2 separate regions of the Homo sapiens genome follow, and region 2 is linked to region 1. The links come from fine-mapping of genetic effects on gene expression. A gene starts in region 1. The other region holds a variant in brackets. All regions are shown on one strand. Distances are between the middles of the regions. Region 1 holds the start of HK1 (hexokinase 1). Region 2 overlaps HK1 (hexokinase 1).

The links.
Region 2: its variant is fine-mapped to the expression of HK1 in neutrophils (CEDAR, PIP 0.92).

Annotation. Positions count from the first base shown.
Region 1 is chr10:69,308,246-69,322,341 of GRCh38, forward strand. HK1 (hexokinase 1) reads left to right here and starts at 10,602. Exons shown (of 18, transcript NM_000188.3): 1 at 10,602-10,765. The coding sequence starts at 10,703. RefSeq lists enhancers at 4,582-5,083, 9,616-9,845, 11,136-11,185, 12,771-13,687 and a silencer at 10,156-10,835.
Region 2 is chr10:69,349,174-69,357,423 of GRCh38, forward strand. All of the region lies in intron 2 of HK1 (hexokinase 1), which reads left to right. Among named protein-coding and RNA genes, the nearest start is that of HK1, 34 kb to the left of the region's middle. The variant CAAA/C (reference allele first, on the strand shown) is at 4,445.

The DNA.
Region 1 (14,096 bases):
TCGGGGTGAAACTGTTCCACCTCAGATCATTATGCAGCAGGACAAGCTGCAGACAAAACTCCTCAGACACCGAGTTAAAGAAGGAAGCGGTTTATTCAGCCAGGAGCATCGGCAAGACTCCTGTCTCAAGAGCCGAGCTCCCCGAGTGAACAATTCCTGTCCCTTTTAAGGGCTCACAACTCTAAGAGGGTCCTTGGGAGAGGGTCATGATTGACTGAGCAAGCAGGGGGTATGTGACTGGGGGCTGCAGGCACTGGTAATCAGAACAAAACAGAACAGGACAGGGATTTTTACAATGCCTTTCCATACAATGCCTGGACTCTATAGATAACATAAACGGTTAGGTCAGGGGTCGATCTGTAACTACCAGGCTTAGGTCAGGCAGGGCCAGGCCTGGTTTCGGGTCTGGTTCCTTGCTTTCGGGTCTGGTTCCTGGGCGCCAGGCTACCTGCCTTTAGTTTTGCTTCTCTTTCTTTTTCTGAGTATAAAACAATATGAGAGGGTCTGTCTCTCTTCTCTCAATTAGGCACTAGATTCTCATAAAAAGTGCACAATCCAGATCCTTTGGATGAGCAGTTCACAATAGGGTTTGTACTCCTACAAGAATCTAATTGCACTGCTGATCTGACAGGAGACAGAGCTGAGGCGGTAATGCTCGCTCACCTGCTGCTCACCTCCTGCTGTGAAGCTCAGTCCCTAACAGGCCACAGACCAGTTGGGGACCCTACTTTAGGAAATTATGATTATAGGATATGAAAATCATACACCTAAAAAAGATCCTGGTCTGGCATGGTGGCTCATGACTGCTAATTCCAGCACTTTGGAAGGCCAAGTCAGGAGGATTGCTTGAGCCCAGGAGTTCGAGATTGCAGTGAGCTATGATCATACCACTGCACTTTAGCCTAGGTGACAGCAAGACTTTGTCTCTTTTCTTTCTTTCTTTTTTTTTTTTTTGAGACAGAGTCTCGCTCTGTCCCCTAGGCTGAAGTGCAATGGCATGATCTCGGCTCACTGCAAGCTCCGCCTGCTGGGTTCACGCCATTCTCCTGCCTCAGCCTCCCCAGTAGCTGGAACTACAGGCACCCGCCACCACGCCCGGCTAATTTTTTGTATTTTTAGTGGAGATGGGGTTTCACTGTGCTAGCCAGGATGGTCTCGATCTCCTGACCTTGTGATCCGCCTGCCTCGGCCTCCTAAAGTGCTGGGATTACAGGTGTGAGCCACCGCGCCTGGCATGACTTTGTCTCATTAAAAAAAAAAAAAAAAAAAAAAAAAAAGCCGCGAGGTGGCTCATGCCTGTAATCCCAGCGCTTTGGGAGGCTGAGGTGGGCGGATCATGAGGTCAGGAAATTGAGACCATCCTGGCTGACACGGTGAAACCCCATCTCTACTAAAAATACAAAAAATTAGCTGGGCGTGGTGGTGTGCACCTGTAGTCCCAGCTCCTCGGGAGGCTGAGGCAGGAGAATCACCTGAACCCGGGAGGCGGAAGTTGCAGTGAGTTCAGATTGCACCACTCGGCCAGGCGAGGTGGCTCACTCCTGTAATCCTAGCACTTTGGGAGGCCGAGGCAGGCAGATCACCTGAGGTCAGGAGTTTGAGACTAGCCTGACCAACATGGTGACACCCCATCTCTACTAAAAATACAAAAAAAATTAGCCGGGTGTTGTGGCGCATGCCTGTAATCCCAGCTACTTGGGAGGCTGAGGCAGGAGAATTGCTTGAACCCGGGAGGCGGAGGTCACAGTGAGCCGGGATCACGCTACTGCACTCCAGCCTAGGCAACAAGAGCGAAACTCCATCTCATAAAAAAAAAAAAAAGAGATTGTACCACTGAACTCCAGCCTGGGTGACGGAGTGAAACTCCATCTAAAAAAAAAAAAAAAAAAATCTGGCCAGGCATGGTGGCTCACACCTGTAATCCCAGTACTTTGGGAGGCCAAGGCAGGCAGATCACTTGAGGTCAGGAGTTCGAGACCAGGCTGGCCAACATGGCAAAACTCCCTCTCTATTAAAAACACAAAAATTAGCCGGGTGTGGTGGTGGATGCCTCTAATCCCAGCTGCTTGGGAGGCTGAGGCATGAGAATCGCCTGAACCCATCAGGCAGAGGTTGCAGTGAGCCGAGATCGTGCCACTGAACTGCAACCTGGGTGACAGAGCCAGACTTTGTCTCAAAAAAAAAAAAAAAAAAAAAATCCTTTCTAAGCCATATAAAAACTCAGAATCTAATTTTTGTTTATATGTTTAACTTGCTGACCCATGTCATCTTAGAGCCTAGGAACCCTGCCTAGGTGTTGACATGAACTCTGTGTGAGCATTTTCCAGTATATCTTGGTGCTGTTGATAAAGAGTCAGTCTGTAAAATATTTGAAGAGATTATTCTGAGCCAAATATGAGCAGCCAGTAGCCCATGACACAGCCCTCAGGAGATCCTGAGAACATGTGCCCCAAGCAGTCAAACTACAAGTTTATTCATTTCAGGAAGACAATAAAATATCAGTCAATACATGTAAGAGGTACATTGGTTGGCTGGGCCTGGTGGCTCATGCCTGTAATCTCAGCACTTTGGGAGGCTGTGGCAGGCGGATCACCTGAGGTCAGGAGTTCGAGACCAGCCTGGCCAAAATGGTGAAACCCTGTCTCTACTAAAAATACAAAATTTAGCTGGGCATAGTGGCAGGCACCTGTAATCCCAGCTACTCAGGGGGCTGAGGCAGGAGAATCACTTGAACCTGGGAGGCGGAGGTTGCAGTGAGCCGAGACTGCACCACTGCACTTCAGCCTGGGCAACAGAGTGAGACTCCGTCTCAAAAAAAAAAAAAAGTGATAAGGGGTTGTGGAGACCAAGGTTTTATACAGATGAAGCCTCCAGATAGCAGGCTTCAGAGAAAAGATTGTAAATGTTTCTTATTAGACTTAGAGAGTCTGTTCTATTCTATCAGTCTGTTGATGTTAATGCTGGTCGGATGGGACTGAATTCCAAAAGGGATGAAGGTATGATGAAGTATGTCTGACACCCCCATTCCATCATGGCCTGAGCTAGTTTTTCAGGTTAACTCTTGAATGCCCTGGCTGAGAGGAGAGGTTGAATCAGATGATGAGGAGGATGGTGGGTTAGAATTTTATTTGTGGTTTACAATGCTAACTCGAAGGAAAGGATTGAGGACTTTTTCCTGGCCCTGTGAAGGTCGTTGTGTGTGGGTGCTGGGAGAACTATCCCAGGAAACTCAGGGTAACTGGCAAGGTGATTTGAGATTGCTCTGGTCCAAAAGATAACGATTTCATTTGGGGAAACCATTTCCTTTGGAGAGCTGGCTGAGATAAGGAGCTAGTCTGAAGCCTGGGAAGGCCTCAACAATCTGGTTAACCCTTCCTCCTCCAGGATACAATTCTTTCTTTTTTTTTCTGAGACGGAGTCTTCCTCTGTTGCCCAGGCTGGAGTGTAGTGGCACAGTCTTGGCTCACTGCAACCTCCACCTCCTGGGTTCAAGCAATTCTCCTGCCTCAGCCTCCCGAGTAGCTGGGACTATAGGTGCATGCCACCACGTGCAGCTAATTTTTGTGTTTTTAGTAGAGATGGGATTTCATCATATTGGCCAGGCTGGTCTAGAACTCCTGACCTCGTGATCCGCCTGCCTCGGCCTCCCAAAGTGCTGGGATTATAGGCGTGAGCCACCGCGCTCGGCCCAAGCTACAGTTCTTTACGCCTATGACTTTTGTCAGGCTCAGAGGCAATTTAATGAGGATGGGATGTCTAGAAAGGGACAGGGTGGGACTCGGATTTCCTTGGCTCTTCTGAGGAACTTTTACCTTCAAAGGGGAGTAGAAGCCACTGCAGGGTGGAAGGAAAACTTCCGCTTCCCCCTCCGTGAATTTGCTGAAAAGTCAACAGACAAAAGACGATTAAGAGAAAAGGCATACACATTTTCTAATATGCCTAGAAGAAAACACAGTGATTACCCTAACCCTTCAATGGAGTACAGAAGCTTATATAGCCTTTTATTTCTGAGACAGAGGCTCACTCTGTCGCCCAGGCTGGAGGGCAGTGGCATGAGCTTGGCTCACTGAAATCTCTGCCTCCCAGGTTCAAGTGATTCTCCTGTCTAAGCCTCCTGAGTAGCTGGGATTACAGGCTTGCACCACCACGCCCAGCTAATGTTCGTGGTTTTAGGAGAGAGATGGAGTTTCACCATGTTGGCCAGCCTGGTCTGGAACTCCTGACCTCAAGTGATCCACCCGCCTCGGCCTCCCAAAGTGCTGGGATTACAGGCGTGAGCCACCGTGCCTGGCCATATAGCCCTTTTTTTTTTTTCTGAAGCTGGTAAGGAGATGGGGAATATGCTAATTCTGTAATTCTGCATGATTTCTCAGGAGAAAGAAGGGATCAGAGAATTGAGATTAACTTGTAAATGGCTCTCTTTGGAAACTGAATAAGCCCGAGAGACAGACAGGCATTTTATCCCTCTAGGGGTGGTGACATTCTTCAGTCTTCTTTTCTGCAATAGAGAATCAGATAACGGGAAGGGGAAGGGAAAAAATTGTTCCCCCAGGGGCATCCTTCTGGTCTTTTGGTCTTTCCCCTTTGGAGGTGGGGCAGTCTCTTCCAGTGTCTGTTGATCTTTAAGGGCCTTTCATTCAAAATACTCTTTACACAAGGGAGCCGTATTTTGGGGTGAATTATGTTGGTTTCCTTCACCTCCTTGGGAGGTGGGAAATGTGTCCTGAAAGGTCAGGGCCTCTCTGAGTGGAGATGAACAGGTCAGGGTTGAGTAAGGAGGAGGCTGGCAGGGGCCTTTATGATACCTGAGAGGACTGGGGCTTGGATGGAGCAAGAGAGGCACTGATGGAGTAAGATTCAGGTACAAGACTTAAGTCTTGCATCCTAGGCACGGCTCTTGCCTCATCCTCATCCCAGCCCTAATAATGGGAGGCTTTTTGCCGGTAAATTCCCATTATTAGGAGCTGAAAATGTCAATGCCTTACAGGCGCCAGTCAGCAGTGTCAAGCAGTGGGCTGGGTGGGGCCTGGGCTGGCTGGAGCTCCCCTACCCTGTCTAAAGGGGGCGGTGGCTGCTCAGCTCCAGCATATGCGGGGAAGGCGCTGGCTAAGATAAGGAGCTAGTGCCATGATGACCACGTTGCCACAGGATCAAGTGGGTCCTGTGTGGTGTCACCTTTAGGTGCCTGAAATCTAGATTTTATTTTATTTATTTTATTACTATACATATTTTTTGAGACGGAATTTCGCTTTTGTGGCCCAGACTGGAGGGCAATGGCGCAATCTCGGCTCACCACAACCTCTGCCTCCCGGGTTCAAGCGATTCTCCTGCCTCAGCCTCCCAAGTAGCTGGGATTACAGGCGTACACCACCATGCTGAGTAGCTGGGATTACAGGCATGTGCCACCATGCCTGGCTAATTTTGTATTTTTAGTAGAGATGGGGTTTCTCCATGTTGGTCAGTCTGGTCTCGAACTCCCGACCAGATGATCCGTCTGCCTCAGCCTCCCAAAGTGCTGGGATTACAGGCGTGAGGCACCGGCCTGAAATCTAGATTTTAAAGTGAAATTTCTTAATTTTTTTTTAAGGGCAGGCACAAATTTATAAAACATCAGGTGGGCCAAATAAAATGTTACAGGCCACAGTTTTAGCTTGGTGGTTGCTGATTTACTGACCCTGTTATAATATTGGAGGTCAGGACTTTGGGCAAATGAAAGAGAAAAGGAGGCAGACTGAGAATGTGATTTTACAACTCCAGCCTCTCCAGGGGCTGGGTGGCCAGTGTCTCCTCAGCAGCCTTCTCCCGCAGGAAGCAGAACTGTCTGCAACGCTGATGGAGTCACAGTAACCTTCACCCCACTGAGCTCAGGATCTGCAGAGCCACTAAGACCCTGGAGCAACTGCCTTCAGCATCCAACAGAAGCTGCTAAAAGGATTATGGGTCAATTCATTTTAGACATTTCTTCCAGATGTTCCCATGGAAAGCTAGGGTCTAAATCAGTGGTCCTCATTCCTGGCAGCACCTGAGTTTCACCTGGGGAACTGTTAGAAAGTGAAACTTGGACGGCATTCACATTAGTCCAGTCTCTGGGTGGGGCTTGGACATCAGCATTTGTAGAAGCTCCCTAGGTGGCTTTGGTGCAGCCAGGTTGGAAACCACTGATCCAACTAATAGAAATGCTAGGTTGGGATCTCTTCCGAGGCATCTCTTTAGGACAGGCTGTGCATGACAGTCCCATAGTGTCAGGGTTCTAAGATGCTCCAATGGTTTAGGCACTGGTCTTAATTTTCGTTTTTTCGCTCTCTTTGAGACCTTAACAAACTCTATAGGGCTGGGCACAATGGCTCACGTCTATAATCCCAGCATTTTTTTCTTTTTTTCTTTTTCTTCTTTCCTTTTCTTTTCTCTTCTCTTCTCTCTTTTCTTTTCTTTCTTTTTTTCTGAGACTGTCTCACTCTGTCGCCCAGGCTGGAGTGCAGTGGCACAATCTTGGCTCACCACAACCTCCACCTCCCAGGTTCAAGCGATTCTCTTGCCTAAGCCTCCCAAGTAGCTGGGACTACAGGCTCTTGCCACTATGCCCAGCTAATTTTTGTATTTTTAGTAGAGACAGGGTTTCACTATGTTGGCCAGGCTGGTCTCGAACTCCTGACCACGTGATCCTCCCACCTCAGCCTCCCAAAGTGCTGGGATTACAGGCGTGAGCCACTGCGCCTGGCCAATTCCAGCAGTTTTAGAGGTCAAGGCAAGAGGATCCCTTGAGTCCAGGAGTTCGAGACCAGCCTGGGCAACATGGCAAGACCTCATTTCAATTTAAGAAAAAAACCAAAACACCCAAGCTCTATAACCTTCACATCCTCATTGACTGATTAAGTGCAGATAATGATATTTGCCCTTCTAACCTCACCAGGCTGTTATCAGGAGAAATGAAGCAATAAATGAGAAATTGCTCTGCAAACTGTCAACGTTATGTAAACATTGCTATTCAGAGTGTGCTCCCAGGTGCGGGAGGTACAGCTGTTATCTGTTGGAGATCACTCCTGAAGTAACATTCCTAGTGCCATGGGTCAGATGGGAATTGGTACAGACATTCCAACTTAGAAGGCAGCCTTTATTGTCTTATAAGCAGGTGCGTTTCCTGGGGTGGCAGCCTGGCACTGGTCACTCCAACCCCAACTTGTGTAGGAGGTACCACAGTAAATGAGTAGAGAGAGTTCAGGGGACTTGAAGGGAAGTGGAGGGCCATCTGGAGAGGGAGGGAACTAAGGACTCCCTGTGGGTTGGGGTCTTCCTGAGGATCCAGGGAGTAACTGTCAAGGAGCCTTAGCAGGGATCTAAGAGCTATGCAAGAGCAAAAAGAGGCAAATTATTAAGGAAATTAGTGAAGTCAGCACTGGAACAACAGAGAGGGGACACAGCAGTGCAGCATGGGCCCTGGCCTCAGGAAGCTGTCTGATTGGGGCAGATAGGACCAGCCCCCTAGAAGACAGTCACCCATATCAGTTAGGCAGTCATGACTCAGTGTTACTTATCTGAGGCCCAGGTTGCATGAGGGGTTGGGGGTGGGATGGACAGAGCACTGGCTGGGCATCAGGACTAGGCTGGAGTCCTGGCTCAAAACTCTACCACAACCTGACACTGGGCAAGATGGCCCACCTGTGGCATCCCAGGTTCCTGCCCTGTAAAGAGGAGTCTGGGTGTATATCCAGATGGACTGTGAGCACAGCCTGAGTTTGCCCTGTCGAGGTGCTGAGGCCTGGGAGATTGGGGTGAGTAGCTGTGGTCCAGGGAAGGTTGGCAAGCTGGGCCTTAGATGAGAGGGGATGCTTGGTCAGGCAGAGGTGAGTGGAGAAGGCAGGGCAAGGAAGGGAATATGAGCGGCGAACAAATGGAGTGGACATGGTGGGGGCAGAGGATGGTGGGAAGTGGCCTTGTTGCGGCCAGAGTGGAGGAAGAGATAAGTGGGAAAGAGTGGAGTCGATTACAGAAGGCCTCGGAAACCAGGCAGAGATGTTTAAATTGGCTCTCTCAGGAAGGAGAGGGCCATGAAGGGATTTAGGGAAGGGTCATGACATGATTATGCTGCATTTTAGCAGGATTAATGTGACCTGGTGCTCAGAATGACTTGGATGGCATGAGGCCAGGAGCCGAGGAGGACAGTTAGAAGACTCTTGTAATATTTCTGGCACAGGGAGATGGACTGGGAGTTGGGAGGTGGCAATAGGTCAGGCCTAGAGACATTTCTCAGGAAATATTGACAGGCCTTGGGGCCTGGTTGCATTCATGGAGTGGGGAGGAATGAGTCACCTTGAGAAGCAGTTTCCCTCTCAAAGGCCAGGGAAGACAAAGCAGAGGCAGCTTTCCTGCCTGCAAACAGGACATTTCAGGGTAACCTGGCTCTTCCAAGCGTCAGCTTCTCCCTGGCTCCAGCTCAGATAGGAGTTGTAACAACGGGTTGGGCATGGGTGATGGCACCGGCTGGTGGCTGGGTTAAGGGCCATGTTTTTGATTATGCATTAGGCTTATTCAGCCTGCCAAGTGCCAGGCCCTGCGCTTGTGTAGGAGACAGAGCAATTAGCAAAACATAGTCCTCCATCCTCAAGGAGTTTCCAGCCCTGTGAGCTTGGCAGATCTGCAGAACTCAAATGAAATGGCAGTTGAGAACAACCATCTTGTTCTCATTCACTCCATTTTGCTTAACGGCCATGTAGGTAGTTCCAAATGTTTGATGTGTACCAGAAAATCTCTCTCTTCCTGGTTTATAATTATGATCCAGGGCAAATCCAGGTTTTGTTGGGCTTGAAAATTAAATAAATTGGCACTCTCTATGGAAAATAATTCAAATATAAATATACAAATATCACACTGCTAGGCCCTCCCAGGGCCTAGAAGGGTAGGAATGAAAGTGAGAGTCCCTGAAGCTTTAACCGCATTAACTTTTCAGTCAGTTCTATGATACCTGCCATTCCTTAAGTGTGTATTATGTGCACGTATTTTGCGTACAGTATTACACAACAATCAAGGGGAGGTGAGGTGGGCATTAGTGTCTTCATCTTATGGATGAAGACACAGTCTCAGAGGTGATTCAAGATGCCCCTCTGCATAGGCCCTAAGGCAGGGGGTGGGGACTGTGACCTGGACAGGAAGCTGGGGCCTCAGGACTGCATCTAAGCTCCTCCTTTTCTGTGGGTGATGGTGGCTGTCAGGCCCCTGAACCTACGTCATCCCTCCCTCTGATTTGACTGTACCTTTGCTAGGCCTGGTCAAGGGCTAGGGACTCCTAAAGTCAAGAGCTAGGGTAGAGGTTGGGGGTTGGATCTCAGGGCACCATATGGTGCAGACTTGGTTGCAGGAAAGTGACCTATTTAGGCAGAGGGGCTCTATACAACTGGGACCACAGCAAACCCTAGAGGTGAGCACCTGCTTCAAAGACTCACAGATCCAAGCTGTGATCCTAGATCTACAACTTCCTGGCTGTATAAAGTCCAGCAAGACTGAGGCCTCACTGAGCTTCAATTTCCTTACCTGTCTAACCAGAATAGCAACAACTTGTTTGTATATTTGAGCTCATTACATGTCATTTTGTAAGGCACTAAAGCTCCTGGAGGCTTCCGGAACACAGAAATAATTAATCTAAGAATCCTAAAGTGGCTGTCCTGGTAGCACCTCTAGGGAGTCCTCCCATCCTACGTAACTTCCTCTGGGAAAGTAGAAAACACGGCACCTGGGAAGGGGCGCTGAACCGTGCCCCAAGTCCCAGTGGGCCTGGATGCCCAAGAGCAAGAGGAGGCCCAGAGGATGGGGACAGGCCACGACCTGTGGCCCAAGTCCCGCCCAGAGGGAGTGCGCCCTGAGGGAGAGCCACCGGAGCTGGTGACTCGGGGGCGGGTGCTCTGGGGTGTCGCTTTGGGTTCAGCAATACAAATCTGCCAGCTGGAGATTAGGCGGGGCACGCCGGGGAGAGGTGATGCACTGCCGCTGAAGACCCAGGTAGGCCGGTGCGTTCGGCCTGGGTGAGGAAGGCGCGGGACCCGGGTGCGAGGACTGCGTAGCGTCCCCGGCTCCCGCTTCCGCCCGCTTTCCACGCCCACTTCTGCAAGTCCCCTCCGGCACCTCGGCGTCCACCGGACTCCTAGGGGCGAGCCCTCATTTCCGAGGAATGGGACCGCCTTCGTGCCCCCGGGGCTGCCAGTCCCTAGACTAGCCCTAGGGGCTTCTCGTCCCGGCGGAGCCGGGCGGTGCCTCCTGCCTGCGCCTCGCACCTCCCCGCCTGGCACGGCCCACCCGGGCACGGCGCCGCCACGCGTGAAGGCCCGCATCGGCTCCCTACGTGGGGGACGTGCAGGATGATGCGGGGTCGGGGGGGATTTCGCTGCGTCGCCCGCCCCCTTTCCGGCGCAGGAGGGAGCGGCCGCCGCGTCCCCGCTCCCCGGCCGGGACGCCACCGCCGGGCGTTGCAGAGGCGCGCCGCAACCAATGGGCGTGGAGGAGGTGGGTCGGCTGGCGGCTGTCACCCTCCAGGGGACGGGAGCGCGGAGACCGGGAGCGCGCGAGCTGTCGCCGCGCCCCGGGCCGAGGGGGAGGAGCCGGGGGAGGAGGAGGAGGAGGAGCCGCCGAGCAGCCGCCGGAGGACCACGGCTCGCCAGGGCTGCGGAGGACCGACCGTCCCCACGCCTGCCGCCCCGCGACCCCGACCGCCAGCATGATCGCCGCGCAGCTCCTGGCCTATTACTTCACGGAGCTGAAGGATGACCAGGTCAAAAAGGTGAGCCCCCGCCCGCGCCGCCGCTGGTCCTGGCCGCAGCCTTGCGTTCCGGCATCCGCTCGCCGCCTCCGCTGCCTCCATCCTCCGGCGCCCGGCCTTCTCCGGGCCAGCATCGAGTTGGACTGCAGGGCGCAAGGAAAGCCTTCGCCTTCGATTCTACCGGCATTGTCAGTGTCTCTGTGTGTGTGCGTTTTTGGGAGGGGGGCAATCGGGCGGAAGACCCCCGAGACCGGGCTGCCTGCTGCAGTGTCCTTGAAACGGGCCCTGGATGTCAGATAGGCCCCCGGGCTGTGCGGGGAGGTGGCCGGTGGGCCCTTCCGCAGGGCCTGTTCGGGAGGGTCCGAGCGCCGTGGGAGGAGGTGTGATCATGGAGATGCTGGGGAGGTGATCGAGCAGCAGGCGGGGGTGCTGGCTGGAGGCCAGGCCTCCCATATTTGGGGTTCCTGGCGGAGGGTGTCGGGTGCCCCGGAGAAGCTGTCGCCGGGCTCTCCCAGTTGTTTGAGCTGCTCGTTAATCTGAGGACGAGGTGACCCGCCCGGCTTCCCGGAACGGGGAGGGGCGGCGAGGCCACCGGAAACTTTGCTCATAGGCCTCGTGTCTGGAGCGGCACGTCTGAATGGAATTTTTTATTCCTCTTAAGCTGTAATTTCTAGCCAGCACAGGAGCTCAAATAAGCGACTGGTCATTTGAGTTGGGTGGACGCCTGTGGCATGCTTGTTCTAGCACTTGGACGCATGCATCCTCCTGTCCTGAGGTGTTGTTGCCTTTGACATCTTAGTGTAAAATACTGTCCGCTGGCAGGTCTTAAAGGTGTATTTGTCTCTTCTGCCAGCTGTGCTACCATATTTTAAAGAAACAGCCTAAGCTGTAGGGAAAGACGCCCGTTTTATCAGTGCCAGGTCTGGTACAGGCTCCAGGCCCACCCACCCTGAACGTGGTGACGTTATTGCTGGGGTTAGCTGGGATGGACTGGCAAAGTCATCTTGACTTTGGCGTTCAGACAGGTGGAGTTCTACAGGTGAAAGGCAGGAGTGACAGGCCTTGATTTTCTGCCCGGCAAGCCATAGGGTGTTCCATCCTCTTCCTGTGCATCTAAGATGACTCCCTCATCTGGCACCATAGGAAACAGGCCTACTGAGGGCAGCGACCTTATCAAGGTCACCCAGTGAGTTAGAGGCAGAGCCAGTCAGGGGGATCCAGGTCTCCCAGTGCCTCCACCCAGGAACTTCACCAGGGTCCTCCTGGAGGTCAGCTTCCAGGAGGGAGTGGGTACTGAGAGACAAAGCCGCTGGGGACCCTGCCGTGATCTTGGATCCCATGGTGGGTGGGGACCGGGAGTGAGGTAGGTAGGAGATAGGCTTGGGAATGCCATCTGCCATTGCTCTTTATGGCTTTAAGCACTCTGGGGTTGTCAAACCGTGGCACTCGAAACACTTGCTCCTATGGAGCACCCTGGAGCTTCCCTCTGGCCACTGACCTGGGAGCTGTGCGTGCGGGTGTGTGCATTTCATGAGTTTTCTCTAGTGGTGTTGTGCATCACTGATGTTCTTCCCATTGGACCAGGGAGACAGTTCTCCCGGCATGGCAAGAAGTGCCCAGAACAGGCCTCCTGAAGCCAAGAGTTCACTGTCCTCCTGCACGTGGTGTCCTTTATAGCTCAAGACAGTGGGCTGCTGGGCTGGGGGGTGCCTGGGTGACCTTGTAAACCTCCAGTGTCCACACCCACCACCACCCACAACAGACTGCTGGCTGTTGGCTGCCGGTGGCCTCCAGCAGCTGAGCTGGGCTGAGGTTTGGACTCCATTCAGTGGGACATGTTTTCTCAGACATACAGTGTCTAGGGTGGGCCCAGAGCTCTCCACTCCTGTGGGTGGCTCAATTCACATCTATGGATGCACAGTCTATCTCCTAGGCCCCCGTAGGTACCTGAGTGTGTGATTCAGTTGACCCTTCCATCCCTCCTCACTCCGAGTTTGGGATTCTGATGTTCTTCCCTTCTCTTCCCCGAGAACCTTGCTGGAGGAAGGTCTTAAGGCCAAGGTTTCCACCAGATATTATTTGTCAAGGAGATTCTTAAAAACAAGATGTTTGCTTGCATTTCACCACGGACTTCCTATGCTGCTTTCTATAGGGGAGTACGTGGATTCCTGCCAGGGGGTCCACTCATTTTGCATAGTGGACTGTGTGGCACAGCCATCTGTGGGTGTGGTCCTGGCTATGATTGCGCCACCGCACTCCAGCCTGGGCCTTCTAAGGACAGTGACATAGTGGGTACTTGCTCCAGTGACCTACTCAGTTTTGCCCAAGTGTGCAGATGCTGGGGACCACATCTGCTCTTCTGGGGCCCAGGATTTCTTAGAGACCAGCTCTTTCCACGTACCACTCACCATAGGAAAGGCTAGGTGAAGGTGCGGGACCCCCTGTTCTTCCTGTGGGGCTGGACTCTGCCTGCCTCCCAGCAGGGACCTGCTGAGGATGGTTCCCCCCCAGCGTGGGCAGCCATGATGATTCAGCCCTCCAGCTGTAGGCAGCCTCCGGGGCTCTGGAGACAGACCTGGCATCCCTCAGTAACTCTCATCTATCTTCTTGCCCTCAGAGCCAGAGGTAGGAGAAGGGAAGCTGGGGACCATGCCGGGGAAGTTTTTGGGATTGCTTAGAATCCAAACGTGATCATGAAAATGGTGTCATTTCTTTCTTCATTGCCTATGAGGCACATCAATAATTCAACTCCATAAAAATATATCCTGGGTTGAAACAGTTCAGGTGTCTGACTTCCCAGCTTGGAACCCCATTATCCAGACGGCATCTGCATAAATTGGTTAATGGGTGCTGTTGAAGAGGGTGTACTGGCATTAGGCTGAGCTAAGCACAAAACACATATATTCCTTTCACTCTTCTAGTGCCTGTAGGAGGAAAGGGAGGCATATGTGTGCTTGTGAAGGATTCCATTCATCAGAATCCCAGACATCTGCCAGTTCTGCAGCTAGAGGCTGGGTTCTTTGACCTCTAAGTAACTTTAAACACGCATCTCATCTCGCCAGCTTCTTCCACTCGGTTTAGCCATTAGGAGCTTGGAGCAGGGTGAAGGATTGCATAGTGCTCTGTTTGTTTAGAAAGGGAAGATGGGTCCAGGAAGGTCAGAACTTGGCTTCTAAAGAAAGATTAGACTTCCTTTCCTCCAGGCTTGTCAGAATGGTGAGCAAATGCCAGTGGATTTTCTCTGGGCGAGATCCCCATAACGCTAAGTGATTTCCACTAGTAGGTGATCATGAAAAGGGTGTCATTTCTTTCCTCATTGCCTTGAGGCACATCAATAATTCAACTCCATAAA
Region 2 (8,250 bases), 38 kb after region 1:
AGCCAAAGAGAAAAGGAAATAAAAATCTAGAACACTGAATCGGTCTCTGGGTTTGCCACTCCCAACCTGTGTGACCTTGGAGAAGCCACTTAACTTCTGAGCCTCCATTTCCTCATGGGTAAAATGGCCATGGTAATCCCTGCCCCACCTGCCTCACCAGGCTATCATCAGGATCAAATGAGAGTCTTTGGAAACTGCAAACCACCGTGAGTTATGGTGCGTCATCGTCATCCTCATCAGTCTTATGATATAATAACTGGCTTTGGAAGAATTCCTTGGGAAAGTCTTTCCTAACCAATGGAGCCAGTCCAAGGACCGCACCCAGCAGGCCTGAATGTGTAAGCCGAGCCCCTGCAGGAAGGATGCAGAGTTTTTCAGGATTCGCTGGCATCTCTGTGATGTTACAGGGGAAGGAGGCAGAGAAAAGGGGCAAGCCAAGGCAGGCTGTCTCACCCCCAACCCCTGAGCTAGCCACATAAAATGTGGGTGAGACCACAGGCTACAGCTCCAGTACCTCTGCAAGGGGGTGACTGGACACGACAGCTCTGAATCAGGGAGCCAACCCGAGGTAAAAGGGACTGATAGGTCCCTTTTGTTATGGAGGGCAAGTGGGTATTTGGGGGATTCATTTCCTGACAAAGAATATTGAACTAACCTGGAAACCTTCTGGTTGTAGCTGAAGGAAATCTGACTCAAATTTGTTTAAGAAAAAAAGAGAATTCTAGTTTCCTATAACTGGGAAGTCTCGCTGTGAGTTGACTTCTGTATCTAGGGATTCATCTGTCTCTTACTAGTTCAGTCAGCTCCTTTCCTGTGTGTTGGCTTCATTCATAGGCCATCTCTCCTCTTACAGTGGCAGGGACGGCCCCTGCAGCCCTAGGCTGACCCCTCCCCTTATAGCCAGCGATCTCTGTGCAAAGAGCAGGCCTTGCTCCCCATGGACCTGTGATGGTCTTGGAGAGGGCTGTGATTGGCTTACTTGGGTTATGTGCCCATCCTGAACCAATCACGATGGACAAGATGGGTGACTTGGGATGCCCCTGGATCCCATGCCTGGATTACGCATTGGTACCCCTGGAGCTGGAGTGGGGATTCAGCCCCACTTCCAACCTCATAGGTGAAAAATGGGAGGGTAGTTATCTAAAGAGATGCTGGACATCCAGGAAAGTTTATCAGTTATCTTGTTGTCCTTAACAGACATCATTCCTCAGTGTCTTTTGCCCGGCAGCGTATAGGACCAGCACTTTGGGAGGCCGAGGTGGGCGGATCACAAGGTCAAGAGATCGAGACCATCCTGGCCAAAATGGTGAAACTCCGTCTCTACTAAAAAATACAAAAATTAGTTGGGCGTGGTGGTGCATGCCTGTAGACCCAGCTACTCGGGAGGCTGAGGCAGGAGAATTGCTTGAACCCGGGAGTTGGAGGTTGCAGTGAACCAAGATTGCGCCATTGCACTCCAGCCCGGGCAACAGTGTGAGACTCCATCTCAAAAAAACAAACAAACAAAAACATGAAATAAATAAATGTTTAGGTGAACATTAAAACAGCAAATTAATTAAGTAAAATATTAAAATAAAAAGTACCGATCATTTCATCTCAGTGTAGTATTTGCTTTTGTGCCCCTTTTCCCCCTATGCACAAGTGGTTTATAGTTGTTTATCAGACTGAGCTTTCACTGTCTTCATTAGAGAATGAAGCAAAATAAAACCAAAGCTGGCCGGGCGCCGTGGCTCACGCCTGTAATCCCAGCACTTTGGGAGGCCAAGGCAGGCGGATCACGAGGTCAGGAGATCGAGACCATCCTGGCTAACACAGTGAAACCCCGTCTCTACTAAAAAAAAAAAAAAAAAAATTAGCTGGGCGTGGTGGCGGGCTCCTGTAGTCCCAGCTACTTGGGAGGCTGAGGCAGGAGAATGATGTGAACCTGGGAGGTGGAGCTTGCAGTGAGCCAAGATCACGCCACTGCACTCCAGCCTGGGCGACAGAGCGAGACTCCGTCTCAAAATTAAATAAATAAATAAATAAATAAATAAATAAATAAAACCAAAGCTAGGCCAGGCACGGTGGCTCACGCCTATAATCCCAGCACTTTGGGAGGCCAGGGCAGTCGGATCATCTGAGGTCAGGAGTTTGAGACCAACCTGGCCAAGGTGGTGAAACCTCGTCTCTACTAAAAATACAAAAAATGAGCTGGGCGTGGTGGTGGGTGGCTGTAATCCCAGCTACTGGGGAGGCTGAGGCAAGAGAATCGCTTGAACCCCGGAGGCGGAGGTTGCAGTGAGCCGAGATCGCGCCATTGCCGTCCAGCCTGGGCAACAAGAGTGAGACTCCGTCTCAAAAACAAAAACAAAAACAAAAAAAACAAAACAAAAAAACCCAAAGCTATAAGGAATCATGGAAGTTGAAGAGCCCCAGAAAAGAAGTGTAGCCATTCCTGATGTGCTGAAGTCTCTCTCTGGCCCCCACTTTCCTTGGGGATCCTTGTCCCTGAGTTCTGTCCAGGAGGCAGTTTTCATGGTTATACATTATGGCTTCGGATTCAAATGCTGACTCTGCCACTTACTGGTTGTGCGTTTGGGCAAGTTATCTAACCCCTCTTTACCTTTACTTGCTCATCTGTAGAATGGGCATCCTGACAGTACTGACTTCATAGGGTTGTGAAGATTGAAAATAAAAGGATACGTATAAGCACTTAGTGATTGGTACAGAAAGACTCAGTGAATGTTAGCTGATGGATGGTCAAATAAAATGTTTCTGATATTCTAGTGACTCACCTGCGAGGAGCTACTTCATACTGAATTCAATTTTTTCAGTTATTTCAATTTTTTTTTTTTTTTGAGACAGAGTCTTGCTCTGTTGCCCAGGCTGGAGTGCAGTGGCATGATCTCGGCTCACTACAACCTCCGCCTCCTGGGTTCAAGCGATTCTCCTGCCTCAGCCTCCTGAGTAGCTGGGATTACAGGCACCTACCACTACACCCAGCTAATTTTTGTATTTTTAGTAGAGACAGGGTTTCTCCATGTTGGCCAGGCTGGTCTCGAACTCCTGACCTCAAGTGATCCACCCGCCTCAGCCTCCCAAAGTTCTGGGATTACAAGCATGAGCCACTGCGCCCGGCTGAATTCAATTTTTTAACCTAGTGGTGGTGTAAAGTACTGTTGGAGTTAGGACTCCAATGGGAGCCCAAAGAAAATTCTATATTGATTTGAACAATGCCACAAAGTCGGGGTCAGAATTTCCACCAAATCTATGACACCTGCTTCCCAGCATTCTCCCTTGTTCTCTCTCTTTCCTTTGGACCACAAATAATTTAAAACCAGTGGCTTCATGTGATATATACATATAATGGAATATAATCGGTTCATAAAAAGGAATGAGGTACTGATCCACGCTACAGCATGGATGAGCCTTGAAAACCTTATGCCGGGTGAAAGAAGCCAGACACAAAGGACCTAATATTATACAATTCCACTTATATGAAATGTCTGGAATAGGGGCATCTGTAGAGCAGAAAGTACATTAGTGGTTGCTGGGAGATAGGGAGGTTGGGAGGAAATGGTGAATGGTTGTTAATGGGTATGGAATTTCTTTTGGGATGATGAAAATTTTCTAAAATTAGATAGTGGTGATGGTTGCACAACTCTGTAAATATGCTGAAAACCACTGAATTTTTCACTTTAAAATGGGTAAAAATTGTATGCTATATTATTATATCTCAATAAAACTGTTATTAAAAAAACAACCAACCAATATGTGAAATAATAAGAAATATACATGTTGGTCTCTGCCCCTAGTCTCTAGCATTTAGCTTCTAAAACCCTTGTAATTTCTTGAGCAATACAGGTGCTAGGAGAATCTTTGATCCTGGTCCTGACTCAGAGCTCCTAAATCCCTTGGAATTTCTTGGGTGATAGGAGAGTCTCTTTTGTTCCTTGGTGGGACCCTGGATAGCCTCAGGATGGGGGGCTGGTTGCCAGGGGGAACCAACCATGTGATCAGAGGGTTGCTGTCAGCCCCAACCCCCATGCCGCCTCCAGGGAGGGAGAGAGCCTGAAAATAGAGCGAATAAACCAATGGTCGATGATTTAATCAATCGCAACTGTGTAATGGTGCTTCCACAAAAACCTAAAACAGGCCAGGTATGATGGCTCACGCCTGTAATCCCAGCATTTTGGGAGGCCCAGGTGGGTGGATCGCTTGAGCCTAAGAGTTTGAGACTAGCTTGGGCAACATGGTAAAACCCTGTCACTACACAAAATACAAAAAAAAGTTAGCCAGATGTGGTGGCACGTGCCGGTAGTTCCAGCTACTCGGGAGGTTGAGGTGGGAGGATCGCTTGGGCTCTGGAGGTTGAGGCTGCAGTAAGCTGTGATCATGCAACTGCACTGCACTCCAGCCTGGGTGACAGAGTGTGACCCTGACTCAAAGAACAAACAAACAAAAC[CAAA/C]AAAAAAAAAAAAAAGCAAAAAGAAGAAAACCTAGAATGACTGAGTTCTGGTAGCTTCTGTCTAGCTGAACACATGGAGGTTCCTGGGTGGCACATCTGGAGGGGGCATGGAAACTCCTGCCCTTTCTCCCATGCCCCTCCCTGTGTATCTCTTCCATCCAGTTCTTCATCTGTATTTATTGTAATATCCTTTATAGTAAATATGTAAATGTAAGTGAAGTGTTTTTTCTGGGTCTGTGAGCTGCCGTAGCAAACTAATGCAACCCAAGGAGGGGGTTGTAGGAACCCCGATTTATAGTGATCAGCCAGAAGCACAGGCCACAACCTGTGCTTGTGACTGGTGTCTGAAGTTGGAGGGAGGGCAGCCTCGTGTGAACGAGCCCTCGACCTGTGGGATATGATGCTATCTCCAGGTAGCTAGTGAAATAATTGAATTGAATTAGAGAGCATGGAGCTGGTGTTCACTGGAGAATTCACTGCAGAATTACTTGCTTGGTGTGTGGGGAAAAACCCACATGCATCCAGGGTCACAGGTGTGTTCTGTGTTGTGGTGAGTAGAGAAAAGGAAAAACATACTCTGGTTTTTCCTCTGTGTGTGTCTCACATGATGGCGTAACTGCTTTGTGCTTAATAAACAGCAAGCAGGGGTGCTGTATTAGTCCGTTTTCATACTGTTAAAAAGAACTGCCTAAGACTGGGTAATTTATAAAGGAAAGAAGTTTAGTTGACTCACAGTTCAGCATGGCTGGGGAGGCCTCAGGAAACTTACAATCATGGTGGAAGGAGAAAAGGCATCTTCCTCACAAAGCGGCAGGAAGGAGAAGTGCTGAGCGAAGGGGGAAGAGCTCCTTATAAAACCATAAGGTCTCATGAGAACCCACTCACTATCACGAGAACAGCATGGGGGGAACCACCTCCATGATTCAGTTACCTCCACCTGGTCTCTTTCTTGATATGTGGGCATTGTGGGGGTTACAACTCAAGATGAGATTTGGGTGGGGACACAAAGCCTAACCATATCAGGTGCCTTGAATGAATGAATGGACCACCAGTCCCTGTGACCAGGCAGCTAATGAGCATTTGCTGAGCTGTCCTGGGTGCCAAGGACAGAGAATCCCAAGTTGTGGTCTTTCCCTCAAGGAACTTGAGAACGAAGATAGGAACAGGCTGGGCGCAGTGGCTCATGCCTGTAATCCTAGCACTTTGGGAGGCCAAGGCAGGTGGATCACCTGTGGTCAGGAGTTTGAGACCAGCCTGACCAACATGGTGAAAACCCATCTCTACTACAAAATACAAAAATTAGCCAAGCATGGTGGTGGACACCTGTAATCCTAGGTACTCGGGAGGCTGAGGCAGGAGAATCACTTGAACCTGGGAGGCAGAGGTTGCAATGAGCCAAGATCACGCCATTGCACTCCAGCCTGGGCAATGGAGGAAGACTCCCTCTCAAAAAAAAAAAAAAAAAAAAAAAAGATAGGAACAGTGACATTCAATGTGAGAATTCCTTGGTTTGTTGTTTATTTCTTTATACCTTCATTAATTCCACAAGTATTTGCTCAGTTTTTACCTACATTCCAAACACCATTGTAAGTTCCAGAAATATAGCAGTGTGTCAGGGCTTATAGCTTGGTAGAATCAAATACAAAGATAAGTCAGCTTTATTGTTAAAAACAGAAAGCAAACCTTATTTTGTGTTGAAAATCAAAAGCTCAAGGGACCCAGAATAACCAAAGCAATCATGAAAAAGAAGAACAAAGCTGAAGGAATTTCACTGCCAATTTCAAAATTTTCAGCAAAGCAACAGTAATCAAGACATGTGGTACTGGCATGAAGGTAGACATGCAGACTAATGGAACAGAATAGAGAGTTCAGAAATAAATGCATACAGGCTGAGTGTGGTGGCTCATGCCTGTAATCCTAGCACTTTGGGAGGCCGAGGCTGGTGGATCACCTGAGGTCAGGAGTTTGAGACCAGCGTGGCCAACATGGTGAAACCCCGTCTCTACTAAAAATACAAAAAAATTAGCCAGTTGTGGTGGCACACGCCTGTAATCCTAGCTACTTGGGAGGCTGAGGCATGAGAATTGCCTGAACCCGGGAGGTGGAGGTTGCAGTGAGCCGAGATCATGCCACTGCATTCCAGCCTGGGTAGCATTCCAGCCTGGGTAACAGAGTGAGACTTTGTCTCGAAAAAAAAAATAAATGCATACATTACGGTCAATTGACTTTTGACAAGAATGCTAGGACTATTCAATGAGGGAAAGAATAGTCTTTTCAGCAAATGGTGCTGGGACACTGGATATCCACATGCAAAAGAATGAAGTTTGACCTACACCTCATACCATATATAAAATTAACTTGAAATGGATCAAATACCTAAATGTGGGAGCTAAAACTAATAAAACTCTTAGAACGAAATACAGGTTTGAATCTTTGTGACCTTGGATTTGGCAATAGAGTCTTAGCTACAACTCCAAAAGCACAAACAATAAAAGAAAAAACGTAAAACTGGACTTCATCAAAATTTAAAACTTGGCCATGCTTGGTGGCTCATGCCTGTAATCCCAGCACTTTGGGAGGCCAAGCAAGAGGATCACTTGAGCGAAGGCATTTGAGACAGCCTGGGCAACATAGTGAGACCTTGTCTCTAAAAAAAATTAAAAATTAGCCAGGTGTGGTCGTATGCCTGTAGTTCCAGCTACTTGGGAGGCTGAGGCTGGAGGATTTCTTGAGTCCAGGAGGTCAAGGGTGCAGTGAGCCATGATTGCACCATTGTACTCCAGCCTGGGCAACAGAGCAAGACCCTGTCTCAAACACAACAACAACAAACATAAAATGTTACTGCATCAAAGGATACCATAAAAAAAAGAAAAGACAATCCACTGAATGGGAGAAAATATTTGCCAGTCATATGTCTGATAAAGGATTTGTATCTAGAACATAAAAAGAACTTTTACAACTCAACACATAAAAGACAAATGAGGCCGGGTGCGGTGGCTCACGCCTGTGATCCCAACACTTTGGGAGGCCGACGCAGGCGGATCACAAGGTCAGGAGTTCGAGACCAGCCTGGCCAACATAGTGAAACCCCGTCTCTACTAAAAATACAAAAATTAGCCAGGCGTGGTGGTGCACGCCTATAATCCTAGCTACTGAGGAGGCTGAGGCAGGAGAATTGCTTGAACCCGGGAAGCAGAGGTTGCAGTGAGTCGAGATTGAGCCACTGCCCTCCAAGCTGGGCAACAGAGCGAAACTCCATCTCAAAAAAAAAAAAAAAAAAAAAAGGAAAAGATAAGCCAAGTGTTTAAAATGAGCAAAGGATCTGAATAGACATTTCTCCAAGTGGCCAATAAGCACATAGAAATGTACTCAACACCATTAGTCATCAGAGAAATGCAAATTGATAAAGAAGTCAGACTGTAATAAGTGTTGATGAAGACATGGAGAACTGAAAACTTCATGCATTACTGGTAGGAATGTAAAATGGTGCAGCTGCTTTGAAGAATGGTGGTAATTCCTTGAAAAGTTAAACATGGGTTACTATTTGACAGCGATTCTTGTCCTAGGTATATATACCCAAGATAAATGAAAACGTGTCCACACAAAAACTTGGGCACAAATATTCATAGTAGTGTTATTCATAATAGCCAAAAGGTAGAAACAAACCAAATGTCTGTCAGTAACAAATGAATAAATAAAATGTGTTATATCTATAGAGTGTAACAGCCATTAAAAGGGATAAAGTCTCATATGCACTATAACATGATGAACCTTAAAAACATTTTGCTTAGTGAAATGAGCCA